2 separate regions of the Homo sapiens genome follow, and region 2 is linked to region 1. The links come from fine-mapping of genetic effects on gene expression. A gene starts in region 1. The other region holds a variant in brackets. All regions are shown on one strand. Distances are between the middles of the regions.

Region 1 (12,113 bases):
ATTGCTCATGCCTTGTGTATTCCCATTTCACTCATTCTTTTGGATTTATATTCCTTTTAGTCTGTGTTCTTTTCTCCTGTCAAAGAAACCAGGCAAAATAAAAACAAGCAGTGACTAATTTCATTTTAATATAATTCTTACACCAAAAAGCATGAGAAACATTTAAATGAGGAGAGAAAAAAAATCAACCTTGCTTTGACAACATAGGAAAGTGAATTTGAAAGTACATGGGGCTATGAAATCAGTAGTCATATTTTATTGTTCTCAGGTTCTCAAATCATTTTATTTCTCAGACGTAGGACTTAAAGAAAAACTTATGAAAGCAAGTGGTAAGTTGTCTTGCTCTCTAGCCTGTTGACCTCATGAAAACTGTGAATACAAAATTCAAATTGCAGAGTGTCCCAAATATTTGGATTCTATAACTATTAAGATGCCTTCCAACCTGAAATTCTGTGATTCTACAGTGGAACCACTTGAATTTGATTTGAGAAAGGAGATATCTTTACACCTTGTATATGATGTATTAAGTTGATGGTAAGTAGTTGTTGTTTGACAGGGGGACATGTTGACCATGAGTGTGTCTGGAGCTATATTTGAAAAAACGAGTTTGTGCTGGGATTCCAAGTATATCTGTTTTGGAATCAGTAAGTAGTGTGACTGTAGTTATATTAATTTACATTGATTGTAGATTTATACCACAGACTGTCCTCCTAAAACATAGCCTGAGGAGGAAAAACACTTAGCTAGAATTAATAGCTTGGGAAATTGTCTGTGGTTTTTGGCACTTAAGGGGTAAAAAAGGCAAGGTGGAAAAGAAATCTCCTCTCATTCCTCCACCTCCATCACTTCTCACATCCAAACAATGACAAAGTCATGCTAATGCTTCCTAAACATTCCATAAATCTGGCTTTCCTTTTTAGTCGTCATCTCTACAATTACTGTTCCAGTTCAGTCTCTTATCCACCTCTCCCCTGGACTCTGCACTGTCTATATAAGTTCTCATTTCTTTTTCTTTGCTTATGTTACTTTCTTTGCCTAGAATATTTCCTCCTTTCTAATTACCTCATCCTGTGTCTGATTAATTCCTTTAATCTTTTAAGTCTCGATTCAGGACATTCCTCTGAGACTTAGTGTCAGTTCTTTTGCAAAAGACTCTCTGTGTCCTTTAGGAAGTTTGGGGGCCCCTTTTCCGTTCAATATTATGGGTATAGCATGCTCACTGCACTCACTACGTTGCATTCGACCCTTCTGGAGAAGAGGGGATCTATCTTAGTTATCTCTGTGTTCTCTGAACATAACAAAGTACTTGCTCCATAATAGTTGCTCCATAAAATATTTCTAGAGGGCCTGAAGCTTGCTCTGAATTTCCACTCTATAGTATCACTAGAGTCCGCTGTTCTTCCACAAATATTTCTTGTCTAAGTTGCATTATCATTCATCTCTACACTGTTATCTAGCCATATCATCTCTCTACTTTCATTACCTTTTCATAATTTTCAAGGAACATTCAGGGTGAATTTAGAACTCTGGTTTACCCCTTATAATACCCGTGGATCTGGCCTTTGCCTATTTCCCTTTCCAGCCTCCTCATTCTTCACTCTTCCACATGCATCTCTGACACAAATAAATAGAACTACTTGTGCTTTCTCATAAGAAACATGTGTTTCAAGCTTTTATGACTGCACATACAATTTCTCTTTTGCCTAAAACACCTTCCTTCCAATGCCTCCTTCCTTCATCTAAATCCTGTCCCTTTCTTGAATTATCAACTTTCTTGGGAAAGACTTCCCAGAGCCACTTCCACTCACATCACCTCCCCAAATCTTAGCTACTGCTCTCTTGTGTATTCTTATTGCACCCTGTGCTTTTTCTGTGAAATGCCTATTACACTTCTATTACTTCACCAACCTTGTCATTTTCTGTTTCTATTTCTTCTATGTAAGTATAAGCTCCTCAAGAGAAGAGACTGTGTCTGCTTGGATCTGTGTTTTTGGCACTCAGTACAGTATTTACCATATACTATAAGCTCAGTTGTAAAGGAGAGAACAGGAACAGAGAAAAAGAGAAGGAGAAGAAGAGAGAGGAAATGGCAATAGGCATGTACTAATTTCCAGATATTTGAAATCATTCCAAATAGTGAATTTTTTAAAAATAAACAAGGATCTCAGTAGCTGACTGAATACTGTTCTCTCTGTTTCTGTAATGTTTTATAAAATAAAAATTAGTTTTATAATCAAAATATGTTTGATCGTCACAAATGAGTAAAAAAATTTTGATATTTCTATCGTTAAAGCTCCTAGAAGTTCATGAAGCTAGGAAGTAAGAAAACCAGAATGTCAATCCATCTGATTTACACAAATTGGGATTATCTGATAGCACAAATAGGACTGGCTATGTAATTTGTGGGGCCCAGTGAAAAATGAAAATGTGAGTGCTTTGTTCAAAATTATTAAGAATTTTAAGACAGCAACAGCATAGCGTTAACAAGCTTAGAAACCTCCTAAGTGCAGGGCTCTGTGCAATGGCAGAAGTCATACACTAGTGCAGTGGCTTTGACATGCCTTTCCATAGTTCTAAGGTGCTCTGCTGTTGAGTGCTAAGAATGCCGCTGGCAGCACATTTGCCAAAAGCAAACATTTTCTTGTTGGATTAGGCAACATCTGCCTTGTTGGACTAAAGAGCGAACGTATTAACAGTTAAGGACCAAGCACAATGTGGGATAAATGTTTTGATTATCTCATGAATCCTCACAATAACCTTGCTCATTCACTATCCCTTCTGTCTAAGCCACCTTTCTTTCAAAATCTTCTTCACCCAGGTGAGTCCTATACCTCTCTTAAAGCATCAACTACTCTGGGAAAGACTTCTTCAAGCCCATTCTTCTGCCTGGTCTAAATCATTGCCCTCCTATATATTTCACCCTCTTCTGCTCTAGTGGGTCACTCATGTTGATTTTACTCTGTTTATGTAAGAGTAAATTGAGGCTAGGAGAGTAACATAGCTAGGAAATAAATATTGTTGGCTTCTAGCTCCTTTCACGACTAACTCAGCCTTCTTTTATGCTACTCTAACCTGCTGGAGGTCACTTGTCCACTTAGTGTTCAGCATTAGGCATCCTTGCCATCTTACCTTTTATGCCCCTAGAAGAAACACACTGAAGGCTGATGGAATGATAGCCTTCATCTAGGTAGAAAGTGACACACCATCACACATATGTATCTGACCTGGGTTTTGTGATCTGGTGAAGGTATATGACCCAGTGCATCTGAGCGTAAGTAGGCATCATTATCTCTCCAGAGTTGGGAGCAAAAAGATGAGCTTAGAACACTCATCTATCTCTTTTATCTAAGAGTAATACTTACCAAGCTTTCACATGAATCTGAAAAGGAAGGCCAATATTCCACACTTTCTGGGAAGCTAGAAGACAATATTAGCATTACTTACAAGACTTGATTTGCTGAAACGCTAAGTGCTCTTTTTTTCTTTACTTTTTTAAAGTGACAAATAATTGTACATATTTGTGGGGTTCATAAGGATGCTTTCATACGTTAATGTCATATTGCAACTGTTTCAATGGCAAAATAGGCATTTTACTATGATATAATTTTTAAAAAGCTTGACTACAATTTAAATGTAAAAAATACATATTAAGATGTAATGTATGGGTCTCTACCTTTAAAAATTAGGATTAATATAGAGAGGATCGGGGTAGAGATTAGTACTTGGCATGTAACAGAAGATATGTGAAAGGCAAAACAGCTTCTTGAAATGTGTTAACTGGGGAGCCATCATCACGTGAACATTTTTCATAGTTTAATTGGCTTAATTAATTGAAAATGAGGTAATTGATTTTTAGAAGGTGTTTAAAAAGTATGGTTAAGGATGGAAATTTTATAAAATGAATTCATAAATCTTTGATAATCCTTAAACAGAATAAGGAAGTGTTGGTTTCAGTGAACTTTCCATTAATCCTGTAAGCCCACATGAGGTTAAAACAATGAGACCGTTGTTTGCAACCAGATGTTAATTATCCATAAACGGTAGTGTGGTTCATAGTAATACAGAATCTAATGTGGAATTAATTTAAAAAATCAAAAAAATCAATTATCTGAGTATATTGGGAGGAAACCTCAATGAAACGAAGGAGATTCTACATGGGTAGTCCAAGGAATCTCACTAGTTGTTAAATAGCCTGTCTCTAGAGGTTTTTCAGCACTTATCTCCATTGTGACTAGAGGAGGAGCATTTATATCTTAACTACAAAGATATGTGTGCAGCTGAGACTGACACATCTAATAAAGGACTGCTTCGCTGCATCTGCCAAGGTCTCTTGGCAAGGGCTTTGGATCCAAATACTAAGATTTCCTAATATTTCCTGAATGGGTACTCTTTCAGAAGCATAGCAATATTATCGCCTATCCTTCCAATTCAACCACTTAGCTTCTCCTTCAGTATTAGTGTAATGGGGGTCATACTTTGAAAAATTTAACTATGCATTCTTCTTTAGCTTTCCAAGCAAATAACATTTATTATAGTTGTCCCAAGAATTTATGAAACCTGGAGAAGATTAAAGTATGTTATTGCAAATGGAATGATGTAATAGCTTCTGACATGGAAAATAAGATTTTTCAAATTTCTTGTTACATTTCAGTGTACCAAGAACACTGGTGGATGAAGACAAAGGAAAGATGTTACTAATCCAGCCAAAAATGTGTGTCCTTATTTTTCCTTCCTTGGGCTCCTGCTCAAAGACCTAAAAAAGAGTAAATAAATGAGAGTAAATGAGGCCAGAATTGGATTTTTATGCCCACTTCTTACTTGAAGCTCTGAGCTTTGCAAGCTATTCCTTACATGATCTTATGAGATAAATGTTATTCTTATTTTTACAACTGAGGCAAGTGGAGATGAGTAATTTATTCAAGATTACACAGATGGCACAGAACCTGGATTTGAACCCAGGACAGTTTGATTAACCACTCTTAATCGCAATACCATAGTGCTTCTCTGTGCTGCAGTGGGGAACACAGAGATGCTAACATTTTTAAAACTTACTTAAAATTATAAAAAAAGAAAGTCCATAAATTTTCACACTTTTATATTTATGAAATAAGTGAATTTCTGATCATATTTTTTTTTAGCTGGTGTGATACCAGGGTATAGCATTTGCTATTCTGGTTTAGTAATGTATTAAAATCTATTAAAATTGTGTGTAGTAGAATCAAAAATTTTAAAATGTAACTTGGACTTCTGTGTATCATGCTAAAAAACAATTTGAAACATACTTTTGCTCAGTTGCATCTCAGCTAAAAGTATTTTTTTCTTATGTGACTCTCTTGAATAGTTTTGTAATTATTGATGATTGTTAATGATGATAACATTTCTGGTCTTGATTTATCAAGTACCATAAACATTCACAATAGATTTGTAATTTCCTCAGAGTTTCAGGAATTAAATTAATTGCCACTATAAAAATGATTTTTGAAGCTCTTCTAGGAAGGGTACTTTGTTTATATTCTAGCTATTTCCTGAGGAATGGTGTAAATATTTCATAAATGTTTGGGAACCAGACTTTTTACGCCCAGTCTCACTATCCAACACATAAATTATCTCTTTCATCTAGATATTATTTTTTACTTTTAGGTACTTAGCTCTTTATTTACATGTTTTAAAGTGTGTTATTTCGCAGTAGTTTATTTGAACTAAATGAGATATTTCTGACATCAACTTTTAAAACTTGATGGTTTCTCTTGGATTTTTTTTTTTCGTAGACTTGCTGTCTCTAGTTCAAGGCTTGCTTTTGCTTGTAAACCTATAATGTTACAATTAAATGATGTAGCAGTTCAAGTAATGTTAACTACCCTGGATTAAAATGCTCTCAGGCAATTAAACGGCAGTTGTAAATCATTGGAATTTGGAAAAATAATCAGTGTCGTATGATAGTTGCATGACACATGATGGATCTGATTTTTAATATATGCCATCTTGATTAGAAAATGAAGATGAGCCTTCTGTAAAATGTCATGCATAAGATAGAATTAAGTAGAGGAAGGAAAAAAAGAACAGAGAATATGTGAATTTTTATTTTCCAGAATAGTTAGGGGAGGCAAACTTTAACTCAGAAAAGTGATAGAACTGCAACAATTCCATTAAATCAGTTATACTCACTGTGAAACACAAGTCACAGTTTTCGTTTTACTGTGGTTAAATGAAATAAACATTGTATTTGATAAAAGCAAGTAAAAGTCATATACACAACTTGAAATGACTCAATTAAATACTCCAGCATTGCCTTCCCCGTGCTTAGCTGGTATTGGTGGGGCTTCCTCTTACCTTTTTAGCTGTGTCTCTCTCCATATAGATATTTTTATTATCACCAGTTATTCGCTATTTTGTTCAAGATTGATTTGGTTTACTTCTATATATCTGTGATTATATACAAATAAGGTCATAACAAACACTAGTGTTTTTATTTTTCAGGAAAATCTCCAAGAGTTGGTGAATCATGCTGTTGCCAATAATAGGCATGTGACATAACTGAACATTTCATCATCTTCAGTAAATAATCAAGATGGTAAGAATTATACAGGATGTAGCATAGATTGTTAAATTTGTGAAAGTAAGTTGTAGGCTATGTTAGTTAGAATTAGGTTTGCCTGCTACTGACAGAAAACTCCAAATAACAACGTCTTAAACAATATGGATGTCTTCTTCTTCAAATAGAATCTAATGTCACCTTTGCAGAGATGACATGCTGGGTCTGTGATCACCAGGGATCCAAATGCCTTCGATCTTGGTGCTGGCTCACAATCACCAAGTGGCTTCCACCTCACAGTCTGCTGTGGTTGATTAAACTCCAGCATCTTATTGATGTTCTAGCTGGCAGAAACGAAAAAGAACCCAACAAGGGCAAGGTTGAATTACAAAGAAAGGAGAAAATATCCATTGGAGGACTACTATCAACCTCTGCCACAATTTCTACATTTTCTCAACGTATGAAATTTTAAAGTATACTACTAAATTTTAAAAATTATTCGTATTCATATTTTCAATGGTAAAACTATCGAGCATTCTGTTGTTTGTGCCAATTGTTTTACCAAAAATTTTAGATACAAGAAGAGACATTTATAACACAAGGTGTTTCTAACTGGAAAGTAAGCCCTGGAAAAATTTAGGAAACAAGAGAGATGTGAAACGTGCTTTATGTTATTGTGATTTTGAAATCTATTTTTTGGAAAAACTATGCTTATAAATAATTGAAACTTTAAGAGAGGTTGAAGACAGTGGAGCACAATTAAATTTTGTGGTTAGAAGGTTGCATTTCTAAAAAAAAATGTTTACTATTGAGAGGGCATTACAGTGCTATGAGGGCAGGAATTTTCGTTCATTTTCTTCACTTATATTTTTTGCAACCAGAGTAGTGTGTCGAACACAGTAGGGGCTAGATAAATGTTGAATTAATGATTGATCAATTGGTGGATTAAATTAGAGTAAAAGATGAAGAAACATTTCTTTTTATTTATTTATTTATTTTTATTATACTTTAAGTTTTAGGGTACATGTGCGTAACATGCAGGTTAGTTACATATGTATACATGTGCCATGTTGGGTGAAGAAACATTTCAACACATGAATTACAAGCAGATTTTTACAAAAGAGCACACATTTAATACTAAATTTGAAAATTCACCAAACATAGTAATAACATCAGTTTTTCCTTAGCTTATTCGATAATACGAGAAAACTGTGTAGGGAAAGAACAACTTGAGTACATATAAAACCCACTGAAGATGTCAAAATGTATCCAAATTTAAAAGAGGCTCTTAAATTTTATCAAGCTAAGAGAAGTCTGGGACTAAGCAAGAATTTATTTGTAGCAAGTCACAAAATAAAAATAAATTATGTGGCCTAGACTGCAACAGTCATAAAATTGTGGGAATTTTAATGAAGTTCTTTCTGAATTTAAAGAAAACCACAGAGGTTTCCTTATCATTATGCATGCCTTTTGCATTTATGAGTGATAATGTTTCATGAGTAAGTAAAAAAGTTGTAAAAATCCTAAATACTGTATGTCTTTATATGCTATCACTCAGAAATATGCAAAAAGATAAACACTTCCTCACAATATGTAAGCAGAACAAAGGCATTAGAAGTAAGCTATGCAAGTTGTAAAACATGGGTTGACATGTACTTAGTCTTATTTTATTGGTATAATTGAGACACATCTGGAGATTACTGAGTCTTGAAATATGCAGATGACTGATGAATTAAGTGTTTGGCTGACAGATTTCAAATTTGAAATTATAATTTCTTTAAAATGCTTATTTAAAAAAAGTCTTCTGTTGTGATTAGAATTCTTTTTCAAGGATGGAAATGTAAATATATTATGGATCCTTTTCCTTGGCCTTCAACAGAGAGCCATGATTTCATTTTTTTGTCAAAGAGAGACAATAAATATTTTAAATATATTTGGGAAAGAGAGAAACTATATGTCACAAACCAATCTCTATCTAAATCTTTCAAAGTACACATGCCCTGTCTTTAAAACAGGCAATTCATAATGAATTTTTCTTACTTCAAGGAATGAACTCATATCAAGTAACATGAAGATGTTCATTGAGAGCAGGGTTCAGTCTGTTTATTCACTGTATTCTCTGAACCTGGAACAGGTTCCTGGCACATAACAGATACTTAATACATATTTGGTATACAGGTGATTGAGTGAATAAATTAATAAATGAATGAACAACTAATCATATGCATATGTAATCCTAGAATTCCAATTTTACTAAAATTCTGCAAATTATGACTTCATCTATTATGTCAACATAATTTTTTCATTTTATGTATTTAAGGTGGCATTCATCATAACACTCAGAGCTGGCATTTAATGTTTTGAGTTGGCCAGTCATTACAGCAGGAACAAATGATTCACTTCCATTCTACTTTATCCTTAAGAGTACTTTAAGAATACTATAGAGAAAAATAAAATTAGTGCCTGCCATTAATGGATATTGGGAAATAATTGGTAACCAAACTGATGAACTCAGAAGGGCTCAGTGGCTCTGGGGTGAGACTTGCCACATGGCGGATGCTTCATTAATCATACCTCTAATAACTTATTGTTGCAATTTCATATATTCCCATAATTCACATTTCTGATTTTAGCTGGTCACTTCTAATATATATTGCTTTGGTTATAAGTTGATGCTATAATAACACTGTTGCTGAGAAGGACATTAGCATGATTTTATTAAAACCTTCCAGTATTATTAATTAATAATCTATTTGAAAGATATAAGCCAGAAATTTCTCATAAAGCTTTTGTTTTGTTTAAAGTCCTTGCTTAGAGTAACCACTATTACCAGTTCCAAGCAATCACCACTATCTCATAGACAAACTTGAATTTTAAGTATTACAGTTCAGCCCATTAGGCATCTTGGGGATGAGAATATAATCATTTTAAATTGGTTGGAGAATTAAAGTTACAGAATAAGACTGATGGCCAGTTTCTAGAAAGTAGCATTCCAGGATATCTAAAGGAAACCTAATGAAATTGTGGTGCAGCCCTCTGCTGAAATTATTCTCCTGTCATTATCAATGGATGCTGTGCCAATTTCCCTCACTTCTAGTCATTTATAAAGTCTCTGTTAATTTTATAGTATTGCACTTCCACTCTTCACTCAAGATTTATGTTCTTCTTGTCCCTTTCTCTCTGGCAGCTTTTACTTTTACCCTTCACTTTTGGCACTTCTGTTTTTTAGTAGTCAGTATTTTTTGGTACTCAGTTTCTGGCTCCCTTTACATGTGTTTTGGGTTTGGAGTGTTCCTTTCTTCTTCCGAACTCCTTCTCCTCCTAGGACAGTGTGGGTCTCACCCTGAAAAGGAGAGGCTGTGTATCGTTCCCATCTCATAACATTTTTCAAATATACATCTTCTCAAGTCACACTCCTATACACAATCCTTTCTACCTCCTCAGGATGAAGTTGAAATTCCTTAATATTTTTTCTCTCTCTTTCTCTCTCTCTCTCTTTCTCTCTTTTTGAGATGGAGTGTCGTTCTGTTGCCTGTTGCCAGGCTGGAGTGCAGTGGTGTAATCTTGGTTCACTGCAATCTCTGCCTCCCAGGTTCAAGCAGTTCTCCTGCCTCAGCCTCCCGAGTAGCTGGGACTACAGGTGCACACCACCATGCACAGCTAATTTTTGTATTTTTAGTAGAGACGGGGTTTCACCATGTGGGCCAGGATGGTCTCTATCTCTTGACCTTGTGATCCGCCAGCCTTGGCCACCCAAAGTGTTAGGATTACAGGTGTGAGCCACAGCGCCCGGCCTAATATTTTCTATAAAGCTTTTATGATAGGTTAAAGCTTACCTCTCTCAGACTACATCTCATCATTTAATATCTAACAATGTTGAAATATCTTTAGTTCTCCAAACATACTCACTTTTCTCTCCTTTCACATTCTTCTCCTTGCGCTGAGAATGCTCTCCTTCCTGATGGATAATGCTGTTTACCCTCAGGACTTAGTTTATGTAACTTGTCCCTCAGCAAACCATCACTGCTGCATTATGGCTGGTAGGGGGTCCAGCTACCTTCTCTCTGTTGCCTGTACTTATTACTATCAGGGAGCTTATCACTTATATTTTAACCATCTAGTTACATAAAGGAAGTAAATAAATAATAAATCCTTGCTGAATTTAAATTTCTTGAGCACAAGACCTGTGAATCTTGCCTATTTTATGTATAGAAAAATGCTGAGCACAAATTAAGCAGCCAATAATTTTTTTCATAAATAAATGAAAAGGTAGGTATTTTGATTTATCTAGAATTGTATTCCCAAAACTCCAAATTATTAATATTTTCTTTCTGATTTCCTTAGATTTCTATGGATTGTTTTCCAAATTCTTGGATTTAAATTATGAAATAAAAGACAATTCATTTTAAATGATTTTAAATCATAATTAAAAACAAAATTGTCTTGACCATCTCCTGAAAATGTTGGAATAGAGGTCACTCATCATCATTAGTTCCTGAATAGTTTATAATTGTAGATTGATATTTTTGTTCCAATATTTAAGAAATGTTTCAAATTGTCAACTGACTTGGGTCTTTCTTCAGTATTTCATTTGTAAATATCTAGTTTTACTAGAGAAAGAATATAGGTAGCACATTTTTGACACTTTGGAATTTATCTAGTTTTTTTGCAGATTAATATTATATAATAAATAAAACATTATATCATACATAAAATATAATATATATAACATACTATATGTTTTATATATATTATTTATTTTATATATAATACATATTTTATAAACTATATATAAAACTATACTATTTATATATAGACTTTATTATTATATATATAGTTTTTTAAGGACTATGTGCACTGGTTAACTCTGTTTAAATGCTTACAAAATTTGATATATATAAAATTCTGAATTTCATTATTCTAATTTTTAATATATATTCTGTATAATTGTTTAAAGGACAGAAAATATGTATAAAATTGAATAATTCTATGTCAAATTATTGCTAAATACCAAGAATTTTGCTTTATGAATTTTGATATATTTTATGAGTTTTACCTCATATTATCTTAATGACCCTTTTTTTACTCATGTTAAAAAAAGCTACTTTCAATTCTACTTTCTTCAAATAATATGGCTATTGTTATATTTTTCTTTATTTTACCTAATACATTGTGGCCAATTGCTTTGTGTTTACCTTTTCATGCTATTTAGTTTTAATTATATCTCTTTAAGTTGAGATTACTTGAGTTGGACTGCTATGAAATGTCTCCTTCAACTCCCCTCCAGCTGAGTAAGAGGGGATTCAGGGTAAGAGGTTGCTTTGTGAGCCTGGGGTCATGGAGCAGAAATTGCTGCTAGAAAAGCCTAAAGGCACAGGCTGCCCTGACCAGCCCAGCAGTTGTCCAGAGAGGAGGCTGGTTGCCTTAGGAACAGCCTGTGTTGCCAAAGGTCTTCGGAAGGAAGGCTCCTGAAGGCCAAATGGAAGAGAGAAACACACCTGAAGTCACCTTGGAGTGGTGATTGTCTCCTTGGAGAGTGTAATGGACCTCAAAAAATCAGAGTGAAGTTGTAAATGGCCAG
Region 2 (12,113 bases), 350 kb before region 1:
GTAAGCTACTAAATTTTTGCTTGTTTTCTTCTCATAGCTTCACCCAGTCTATACTAACTGATATTGTTCCTCTGAAGACAAAGGGGGAAATTATAGCTAGTGTTCCTGTAGAGGAAGTTCATATTTAGGGTAGTAGTTTTGATTACGTCTCTTTGAATTGTGAGCAGCCATGAGAACCATTCATAATCTCTTTGGGTTCTTTTCTCTGGAACTGCATCATCCACCACTTGTTCTCTACATTCAACTAAACATTCAGGCTCACACAACTACCATAGCCGCATTTGACACCAGTCCACCTGGAGGGAGGCTTAACTTGGTGGCAGGGCAGTATTAGGTGCTCCCTGTCATTGAGACTCCTTTTAACAGTTAACACAGCTAATTTAGCCTCTGGAGTTACTTTCTATCCAAATGATAGCTCAGGTGAAAGAAGATGAAATCTACATGGGGGTGGGTGTGGAATCTGATTTAAACACCTTATATTCCACAGGAGTTAAAGTCCCTTGGGACAATACCATCATAGGCATAGGCATTAGGTGAAGTTATACATTCATCTTTACAACTAGTTAGGCAACTTTAAACAAATTTTATCTCTCTAGGTCTTTGTTTTCTGTGTGTAGAAAATGGGGAGGTGAAATCAAATGAGTTTTAAGAGAATTCCTGACTCTGATATCTTCAGATTCTGGACTAAGGCCTCTGAATGAAGACAGACACGCAGAATATTAGATTGAAAATAAAACTTGGCCAAAGGCTTATAGTTATGGTAAAATTAAATTTTAATTTGTCAGTATACAAAATCTGGAGGATAATTTTGTTGTATTCAGTTTTTAAGTTCTATAACCGTAAAGGTCTATTAAATATAAGCCAGGTACCAGTTTTTATATTTACGAACCCTGTTTTAATCTACATCTGCTTGTGGGAGTTAATTGACAGCATATTTCTGGTGTTTGATATTTTTCCCTTCTCTTATAATCACTGAGATGTAAATTTTATATTGTAGGCTTTAAACAAAGGAAGAAAGTTACATTTTTGATTATTTTTAAATGACTTTTCATTTATGGATCCTGCTTTTTTTGATATGATACAGTGCTCCAAAAATCACTGTGACAAATGCAAGCAATATCAGAGCCCAGGAAAGACACTTTCTTGGATGAACTTTTTCATTATGCTTCATTGAGGTTGCATATTTAAATTGTAGCAATGCACTGAAGCAAAGAACAGATGGATGTACTCTGGGTCTGAGCAGTAACCCGGATACCTGGTCTACAGGTGTTTTTCATCATCATTGCTATATACATGTACAGTGTCCTAGTATTCAGGTAGATGACATGGAGGCATGAGGATGTTTTCCCCATTTAATACGTTGAAATAGGTAATGATATTTTTAAAAACCATTAAAAATTATATTCCATGGATAGCTACTTCACCAGGGCAGATATTCTTGTGTAATTGTATATTCTGCTGGTGGGTCTGGAGGTCCTAATCCCACCAAAGGCTATCAGAGTTGGATATGATGCAGCTCTTTTGTTCACCTCTCTTAAATCTTGTTATGATAATAAGATTAGTGATATTCCCAGTATATTGAACACATATAAATTGAACCTTGTAGTCAGAAAGTCACTTCTTTGAAATTTCATTGTTATTTAACATTTATTCAGTGAAGCTGGTTCTTCTCTTGTCCTGAAAATGTGTGCAGTCAAATGAATTTTCTAGACAATCTTAAGTAATTCAAAGAGTTGATATCCAAAAAGAAAAGCAGTCCATCCTGCATAAGAGCCATCAATCTTCATTAAAAGATAAAAGTTGATTTAAAATGGAAGATCCTCTTCCTCCTCCAATCCAAACCTGCTATAGTCTGAGAACCCTGTGTCCCCAGAATGAGAGGCAGTCACTGGCTATGGGATGGACTTTCACTCTCATGCCCACTTAGCCTTCAATTCCTTTTCTCTTCACTTGCTACCTTATTTCTGAACTCTCTCATGTTGGTGGTTAGGGAGGAAGGAGAGGACAGAGGCAGGAAATTTTACTTGTCTGGTACTGTGAAGGTGATGGGGCCATACTCTGGACATAGCACACATTAAAGCTGATTCTTTCCTGCATGGGCACATGTGGTTCTTCAGAGATGAGCCCTCCATTGCAATTCCTCTGACACGGGCAAGTGCAATTTGTATTTAGTCTACATAGCCCCAAGGAACCAAATGTAAGGAACCAAAGAATGTAAGGAATGCCCTTTGGTTCTTTCTGTTGATGCTTGCTCATTTTTCTTGCAGGCTCTTTTAGCATCTAAAAATTCCCCATACAGTTATCTCTCCCACATGAGACCACATTTGGTCCAAGAGAAACACTCATACTCACCACTAATACATTGGCACTGATAATTCCCAGAAAACAGCTCCTTTCCTGCCTCGGCTACTTCAGTCAGGTTCTTGCCACTATGTTCCCAGCAGCAGAGGACATTGCCTCCTTTTACAGTTACTTTTTCCTGGCTTTAGGTGAAGGGTAGGGCAATTCTCTGAAAAGCCTTTAAAAAAAAATCCCTTTCTGGGTTTCTGTGGTGCTGGCAGTATTCTGTTTCTTGACTCAAGTGCCAGCTATATTGGTGTGTATTTAGTGATAATTTATTATGCTTTACATTTATATTTTATAGCTTTTCTCTGTGTTAGACCCCAATAATACTCATTCAGAAAAAAAGTAGTCAAAATAATATCATCTGGTGCTAAAAGCAATGCAACAAAGAGCCTCCTTCCTAATCTCCAACTCACAACCTTCATACACTTTTTAAGACGTATCTTCTCTCTGGTTCTTACTTTTTTTTTTTGAATAATTTTGTATCTTGTTTTAGCTTCTCATTTCAGAGAGCGCCTCAGTTGAAATTTTTGTTTTATCACTTGTACATTCATTTTAACTACAATCTAGTGAATACTAATATCCAGTACCATAATAAGCCTTTTACCTACATTATCTCAAGAAATCTTCCTACAAACTCAAAAAGGTTAAGAATTGTTAACCCCATTTTGCAAATGTGGAAACCAAGTCTCTAGGGATGGAGTCATTTGCCCAAGGTTGCAGGACAAATACATGGCTATGCCAAAATTTAGACCCAAAATTCTTTGACTCCATAGCCCATGCTTTTTCCATGTAGACAATTCTCAGTCTCAGAACAAGGATTCTCATGAGCGCAACTTGGGTGCCACCACAAAATATGTAACAACGTTGAAATTGCTGACCATGTCAGATTTCCAAGTCTCTCCCATTTGCTGAAATCGAAGTGAAATATTTGTATGGAGATCTCAAGTCTGGTGACCAAAGCCTGTTTCAAGCCTAAGGGAATTCTATTGTAAGCTTATGGCTCTTGTGATGGGCAAAACTATACCTGTCCTAAACTAAACACAGAATAAAAGATGGACAAAGGAGAAGGGATTGTTCTTAAAAATTTACTCAGCCACTGAGGTTGGTTGATAATTTCATTCTACAAAACAAATTATTAGTGGCCTAAGGACTAAGACAATTTACTTAGAAACTTCAGAAGAGTAAATAATTTAGCTCTCTGTCATGGAGTTGGGAAGCAATTGCCCATTAGGCTAATTTGGGGAAAAAGAACTTGTGTACCAGATGAACCAGATATATGGTCTTTACCTGGGTAGCTCAAGCTGCAGAGAAAATGTTTATTTAGCAGATATTGAATGAATATATCTACAGCAATTAAGTGAGGTTAAGAATTACTTTGGAGATTTTTTTGGTGATAGAACACTGTGGGACCTCACAGTACTGAGGCCCATGAACTGACTGATTCTACCCCTTGTTGATAAAATAAAACTGCTGATGAATCTAATAGTAGTGTCCATGTATTGTAAGCAGAGATACATGTATTACCTTGCTTCAATTTCTTGGTAAATTTAATCCATTGAAATTAAAATTTATCCCAAAAGCGTTTTTTTTCTAAAATATGATTTCCAAATTTCCTCATTATAAACATAATAAAAATTCACTATAGGCAACCAGAAAAATTAAAAGAAACATTTTAACTTGGTAATTCTAAGGTGATAATCATTTAACCTTTTTAATGTTAATTCTTTCTTTGTTACAGTTGAACTCAGGATTTATAAACAATTTTATTGTCTCTTTTTTTCTTCACTTAACTGCATAAGATAAGCCATTTTTGTTGTTATAAAATTAAATCTATATTTTAAACTAATAATTCTTTAATTTTATAAACTAGCCAATCAGTGTTCAGATTTTCTAAATCATATCATACATATTTTCTTTGTTTTGTTTTGTTTTCAACTTTTATTTTAGGTTCAGGGGTATAAGAGCAGGTTTGTTATATAGGTAAACTACATGTCACGGGGGTTTGGAGTACAAATTATTTTGTCACTCGGGTAATAAGTATAATATCTGATAGGTATGTTTTCTGATCCTCTCCCTCCTCCCACCCTCCACCTTCAAGTAGGCCCCAGGGTCAGTTGTTCTTCTCTTAGTGTCCAAGTGTTCTCATTGTTTAGCTCCCACTTATAAGTGAGAACATGTATTTGGTTCTATGTTCTGCATTAGTTTGTTTAGGATAATGACCTCCAGCTCCAACCATGTTGCTGCAACAGATGTGACCTCATTCTTTTTTATGGCTGCATAATATCCTACAGTGTATATGTACCACATTTTCTCTTTTTAATATTATTTTTCCATAAGTTATTGGGGTACAGGTGGTATTGGTTACGTAAGTTCTTCAGTGGTGATTTTTGAGATTATGGTGCACCCATCACCCAAGCAGTTTACACTTTACCATATTTGTAGTCTTTTATCCCTCATCCCCCTCCCACTCTCCCCACCAAGTCCCCAAAGTCCATTGTATCATTCTTATGCCTTTGCATCCTCAAAGCTTAGCTCCCACATATCAGCGAGAATATACAACGTTTGGTTTTCCATTCCTGAGTTACATCACTTGGAATAACAGTCTCCAATCTCATCCAGGTCACTACAAATGCTGTTAATTTATTCCTTTTTATGGCTGTGTAGTATTCCATCCTATAAATACCACAGTTTCTTTATCTACTTGTTGATTGATGGGCATTTGGGTTGGTTCTACAATTTTGCAATTGTGAATTGTGTTGCTATAAATGTACATGTGCAAGTGTCTTTTTGAATAATGACTTCTTTTCCTCTGGGTAGATACCCAGTAGTGGGATTGCTGGATCAAATGGTAGTTCTACTTTTAGTTTTTAAAGGAATCTCCACACTGTTTTCCATAGTGGCTGTGCTAGTTTACATTCCCACCAGCAGTGTAGAAGTGTTCCCTGATCATCGCATCCATGCCAACATCTACTGTTTTTTTATTTTTTGATTATGGCCATTCTTGCAGGAGTAAGGTGGTATTGCATTGTGGTTTTGATTTGCATTTCCCTGATCATTCATGATGTTGAGCATTTTTACATATGTTTGTTGGCCATTTGTGTATCTTCTTTTGAGAATTTTCTATTGATGTCCTTAGCCCTTGGTTTTGGGTACTTGGTCATGAAATCCTTGCCTAAGCCAATGTCTAGAAGGGTTTTTCCAATGTTATCTTC[T/C]ATAATGTTTATAGTTTCAGGTCTTAAGTTTAAGTCCTTAGCAAAACGCACCGGATTCGCGCCCTCCCCGGAGTTCTGGCCAGGAGGCTCTGGCTGGATTCCAGTTGTTACAGAGCTCGCTGGAGACTTCCTTCTCCCTGTGGCATTTTCCCCGCTCCTCTGGCCGCCGAAGGAGTCCTGTGGTGCCGGGCAGGAATGGGCTGCTTGGGGACCCAACGAGCTCCCAGAGCCTTTCCTGCTGCTTCCTCTACCCCTGTGTTTCGCTAGGCTCTCGAGATGGACTCAGTTCCAGGTAAGGTCGGAAACTTCTCCCGCAGACAGACCTTCAGTTTTCCCAGTGGGGGTGTGTGTTTGGGAGAGGAGGATCTCCCTTTCCTACTTCCGCAGTTGGGGGACTCGCTGTATCTGGGTTGTCTCCCGGGTCCTACAGGAGCAGTCCGCTTCCTTTAGAGGGCCTGTGGGTCCTCTCCGGATTCCTGGTTTGTTCTTGCCATTGATACGGAGCTAAAATTAATGATGCGAGCCTCCGCACCCTGCTCTGCCCGTACGAGTCAGAGCTGCAATCTAGTCCTGCCTCCTATCCACCATGATGATCCCTCTCCCAATTTTTTTTTTTTTTTTTTTTTTTTGCAAGGGAGTCTCGCTCTGTCACCCAGGCTGGAGTGCAGTGGCGCGATCTCGGCTCACTGCAACCTCCGCTTCCCGGGTTCAAGCTATTCTCCTGCCTCAGCCTCCAGAGTAGCTGGGACTACAGGCGCCTGCCACCACGCCCAGCTAATTTTTTTGTTTTCAGTAGAGACGGGGTTTCACGCTGTTAGCCGGTATGGTCTCGATCTGCTGACCTCGTGATCTGCCCGCCTGGCCTCCCAAAGTGCTTGGATTACAGGCGTGAGCCACCGCGCCTGGCCCCGCTCCCTATTCTTTATACGTCTGGTAAAATTTGGCTCAGAATCCATCTGGTCCTGAGCTATTTTTATTGGTAGGCTTTTTGTTACTGATTGAATTTTGGAACTCGTTATTGGTTTGTTCAGGGATTCAATTTGTTCCTGGTTCAGTCTTGGGAGGTTGTTATATGTCTAGGAATTATCAGTTTGTTTCAGATTTTCTAGTTTGTCTGCATAGTCATGTTCATAGTAGTCTCTGAGGGTTTGTTTTTATGGTTCTCTTGGGTCAGTGGTAACGTCCCCTTTGTCATTTCCGATTGTGCCTAATTGCATCTTTTCTCCTTTTCTTTTAGTTGTCTAGCTGGCTCTATTAATCATATTCATTTTTTTCAAAGAACCGATTTCTGGATTCATTAATCTTTGTATTTTGTGTGTGTGTGTGTCTCAGTTTTTTTCAGTTCAGCTCTGATTTTGGTTATTTCTTGTCTTCTGCTAGTGTTAGGGTTGGGTTGCTCTAGCTTTAGTTTTTCCAGTTGTGATATTCGGTTGTTAATTTGAGATCTAAGTTTTTGATGTGGGCATTCAGTGCTGTAAACTTTACTCCTAACATTACCTTAGGTGTGTTCCAGAGATTCTGGTATGTTGTATTTTTATTCCCATTAGTTTCAATGAATTTCTTGATTTTTGACTTAATTTCATTATTTACTGAAAAGTCATTCAGAAGCAGGTTGTTTAATGTCCATGTAATTTTATGGCTTTGAGTGATTTCCTTAGCATTGATTTCTATTTTTATTGCCCTGTGGTCTGAGATTGTGGTTGGTATACTGTTGGTTTTTTTGAATTTGCTGAGTATTGTTTTATGTTCGATTGTGTGGTCAGTTTTAGAATATGTGCCACGTGTAGACGAGATGAATATATATTCCGTTGTTGGGTGGGGAGTTCTGTAGATGTTATTAGGCTCATTTGTTCAAATGTTAAATTCAGGTCCTGACTATCTTTGTTAATATTCTGCCTCAGTGTTCTGTCTGATATTGTCAGTCGGGGGTTAAAGTCTCCCAATATTATTGTGTGGGAATATAAGTCTCTTTGTAGTTATCTAAGAACTTGCTTTATTAATCTGGGTGCTCCTGTGTTGGGTGCATATATATTGAGAATAGTTATGTCTTCTTGTTGAATTGAACCCTTTACCATTATATAATGCCTTTCTTTATCTTTTTTTGATCTTTGTTGGCTTACAGTCCTTTTTGTCTGACATTAGGATTGCAACCTCTGCTTTTTTCTGTTTTCCATTTGCTTAGTAGATTTTTCTCCATGCCTTTACTTTGAGCCTATTCATGTCATTGCATGTGAGATGGGTCTTTTGAAGATAGCATACCATCGGGTGTTGCTTCTTGATCTAGCTTGACACTCTGTGCCTTTTAATTGGAGGCATTTAACCCATTTACATTCAAGGTTAGTATCATATTTATGGATTTGATTCCGTTATCATGTTGATAGCTGGTTATTATGCTGGCATGTTTGTGTGGTTGCTTTATAGTGTCACTGGTCTATGTACTTCAGTGTGTCTATGTAGTGGCTGGTAATGGTCTTTGCATATTTAGTGCTCCTTTCTGAACCTCTTTTAAGACAGGTCTGGTAGTAATAAATACTCTCAGCATTTGCTTGTCTGAAAAGGACCTTATTTCTCCTTCACTTAGTTTGGCTGGATGTGAAATTTTTGTTGGAAATTCTTTTTTTAAGAATGCTGAATATAGGCCCCCAGTCTCTTCTGGCTTGTAGGGTTTCTGCTGAAAAGTGTGCTGTTAGCTTGATGGGGTTCCCTTTGTAGGTGACCTGCCCTTTCTCTCTAGCTGCCCTTAACATTTTTTTTCTTTCATATCAACCTTGGAGAATCTGATGATTATGTGTTTGGGAGATAGTCTTCTTGTGTAGTGTCTTGCAGAGGTTCTCTGTATTTCTTGAATTTGAATGTAGTTCTCTCTAGTGAGGTTGGGGAAGTTTTCATGGACGATATCCTGAAATATGTTTCCAAGTTGCTTGCTTTCTTCCTGTCTCTTTCAGGGATGCCAATGAGTCATAGGTTTGGTTTCTTTACAGAATCACACATTTCTTGGAGGGTTTTTTGTTGTTGTTGTTCATTTTAATTCTTCTTTCTTTATTTTTATTTGCCTGGGTCATTTTAGATAGCCAGTCTTTGACCTCCGAGATTCTTTCCTCAGCTTGGTCTATTCTGCTGTTAATATGCACAATTGCATTATGCAATTCTTTTTTTTTTCTTTTTAGACCAGTCCCCCATTATGCAATTCTTGTAGTGTGTTTCTCAGCTCTATCAGATTACTTTGGTTCTTTTTTATAATGGCTATTTCATCTAACGGCTCCTGTATTATGTGATTCTTAGGTTCCTTGGATTGCATTTCAATGTCCTCCTGAATCTCGATGATCTTTGTTCCTGTCTGTATTCTGAATTCTATTTGTATCATTTCAACCATTTCAGCCTCGTTAGGACAGTGTGGGCATTTGGAGGAAAGAAGGCACTCTGGCTTTTTTAATTGCCAGAGTTCTTGTGCTGGTTATTTCTCATCTGTGTGAGCAAGCTGATGTTCCTTTAACTGTGGTGTTGAGTACAGTCAGTTGACTTCCTTTCTGGATGTTTTCAGAGGGCCAAAGCTTTGTTCAGGTGTTTATTTGTAGCTAAATTCTTGTTTTTGATTTCACACGGTGAGTATATTAGCAAAGTATTTTTTGGTATTGATGTTTTGTGCTGTGATCCAGTAGGTGGCACTTAAGTGTAATGGCCGGTAGGTAGGGTCTTGCTCAGTTAACACAGCTCCCCTGTATTTCTTCACAATTGCAGTTGTACTCCCTCTCAGTGCTCTGAAAGTGTGGGTTTATCTCCCACTTGAGTGCTGGCTGCATGTCTCAACTTGGCACTCCTGGGCTGCACACCACAGCTCTAGGGTGATTTCTGGCTTTATGTTCCTTTCCCAGCTTTGAGGCAGCAGGGGAAGGGACTTCAGCGGTGGTTGTGGCAGAGGGTCTTTGATTTGTCTCTTTGGGCTCCAGCCCAGAAACATGCAGAGCTGCTATCAATCAGTTTAATTAGCCTGGGGTGGGGCAGCTGAACGGTGGGTCCACACTAATGGGGCCCCACCTGGTGATGAGCAGGGGCCTTGGGTGGGACCTGGGGGAGACAAACTGGCCTCTTCTCCTTAACGCAACTGCCATTCGCTGCAAGTGTGATTAAAGCACTCAGCGTCTTTGCTTCTTTCCTGGTCTGAAGGTAGCAAGGGCAGCACCACTACAGTGGCAGTGGCAAGGGGGTTTTTGGTTGCTTCTGGGAGCTCCACCTCAGAGAAATTCGAAGCTGCTGCTCCCAGGAATGTTCGGCCATGGGGTGGGGCAGCTGCTCTGCTAGCCTGAGCCGGGCTCTGCTTGTTAAAGAGCAGGAGGTTTGTCCACAGCTCACAGGGATGAGAGACTGGGCTCCTCTCCACTTGGTGTGCTGGAAGCTCGGGTGAAGCCCTTAGATTCTTTGTTTTTTCTCCAGACTGAGGGCAGCAGAGGCAGAATCATTGCTGTGGCAGTGGCAGGGGGGCTTTTGGTTGCTTCTGGGAGCCCCTCACCCGGGAAGAACAGCCCCTACCAGTGGGTATGCCTAACCATGGGTGGGTCAGCTGTTCTGCAGTCCCAAGCCGGGGGCCCTGCCTGGTGAAGAGTTTTGGGGGCAGTGGGGAGGGAGGGTGTCACAAGGAAGAGAGACTGGATTCCTTTTTGTCTGGTGGCTGCAGTATGTTGCATTTGCCAGCGTAGCTATTGTGCCTTCTGTTCCTTCCCCAACCTGTGGGAGGTTAGGGTGTTATTACTGTAGCTGCAGAGGCAGAGGGGTTGTGGGTTGTCTCTGGGATTTCCTCCCACCTCTGACTAAAGGGTTCAGGAAGGGGCAGGGTAGTTTTGCTAGAGTCCCAGGTTGGGTGGCCCTACCCAGTGATGAGAAGCTGAGAGAGAAGCCCACGTGGAGAACAATCCAGTCACTTTTCTGTGGGAGGGCTGCACTGTTCTGGGGAACTATGCCACTTCCTAATCACCGTGTACTCTCCAGACCAGAAGGCAATAGCAGCAGGATCTGGAAGACGCAAAAACTGTGGCCAGCCTCTCCCTCTGCAAGCTTCCGTCTCAGGGAAGTGTAGATCTGTACTAGCCTGAGAGCCCTGGTTGTGGTGAGTACAGAGTGGCTGGAGTCCCAGATAGATGGGTCCCACTCAGTGAGGAGAAGTGGGATCAGGGACCCATGTAAAAAACAATCTGGCCACTTTACCTTGGGTCAGTTGCGCTGTGTGGGGGATCCATGCCACTCCCTAATCACCACTTGCTCTCCAGAGCCTGAAGGCTATAGCAGCAGAGACTGCAAGGCAGCAAAAACTGGTGGCCGGACTCTCCTTCTTCACACTGCATCCTAGGGAAGTGCCGAGTTGCTACCAGCCTGAGAGCCCTGGTTGGGGTTGGCTGGAGTCCCAGGCTGTGGGGTCCCACCCAGTGAGAAGAAGCAGGACACATATAAAAAACAGTTTGGCCGAATATCCTTGATGAACGTTGATGTAAAAATCCTCAACAAAATACTTGCAAAACAAATCCAGCGGCACATCAATGGTGTATATACAGGGAGCTAATTCTCCATGATAAAGTAGGCTTCATCCCTGGGAAGCAAAGTTGGTTCAACATAGGCAAATCAATAAATGTGATTCATCACATAAACAGAACAAAAGACAAAAACCACATGATAATCTAAATAGAGGCAGAAAAGGCTTTTGATAAAATTGAACATCTCTCCATGTCAAAAGCCCTCAATAAACTAGACAATGAAGGAACATACTTCAAAATAAGAGCCATCTATGAGAAAACCACAGCCAACATAATATTGAATAGGCAAAATCTGGAAGTATTCTGCTTGAAAACAGGCACAAGATAACAATGTCCTGTCTCACCACTCCTATTCAGCATGGTATTGGAACTCCTGGTCAGAGCAATCAGACAATAGAAAGAAATAAAAGGCATCCAAATATAAAGAGAGGAAATCAAATTATCTCTCTTTGCGGACAGTATGATTCTACACCTAGAAAACTCCATAGTTTCTATCAAAAAAATCTTAGAACTAATAAACAACTTCAGTTAAGTTTCTGGATACAAAATCAGTGTAGAAAAATGGGTAGCATTTCTATAAACACACAACATCCAAGTGGAGAGCCAGGTCAAGAATGCAATCCCATTCACAATTGCCACAAAAAGAATAAAATACCTAGGAATACAGCTAACCAGGGAGGTGAAAGATCTCTATAATGAGAACTATAAAACTCTGCTCAAAGAAATCAGAGATAACACCAACAAATGGAAAACATTCCATGCTCATGGATAGGAAGAACCAATATGGTTAAAATGGTCATACTGCACAAAACAATTTCCAGATACAATGACATTGGTAGTTTGATAGGAATAGCATTGTATAGGACTAGGAAAAACTATTTTAAAATTCATACGGAATCCAAAAAGGCCTAAATAGCCAAGGCAATCCTAAGCAAAAAGAATGAAGTTGGAGGCATCACATTACCCAACTTAAAACTTTATTTCAGGACTACAGCTACTAAAACAGCATGCTACTGGTACAAAACAGACACAT

What was found. PIP is the estimated chance that this variant, and not a neighbour inherited with it, causes the effect.
Region 2: its variant is fine-mapped to the expression of LINC02468 in tibial artery (GTEx, PIP above 0.99).

Annotation. Positions count from the first base shown.
Region 1 is chr12:20,121,083-20,133,195 of GRCh38, forward strand. It overlaps LINC02468 (long intergenic non-protein coding RNA 2468), which reads right to left and starts at 6,819. Exons shown (of 4, transcript NR_146523.1): 1 at 6,734-6,819; 2 at 4,657-4,753; 3 at 3,363-3,417; 4 at 1-76.
Region 2 is chr12:19,769,754-19,781,866 of GRCh38, forward strand. No RefSeq gene overlaps it. Among named protein-coding and RNA genes, the nearest start is that of LINC02398, 240 kb to the right of the region's middle. The variant T/C (reference allele first, on the strand shown) is at 5,559.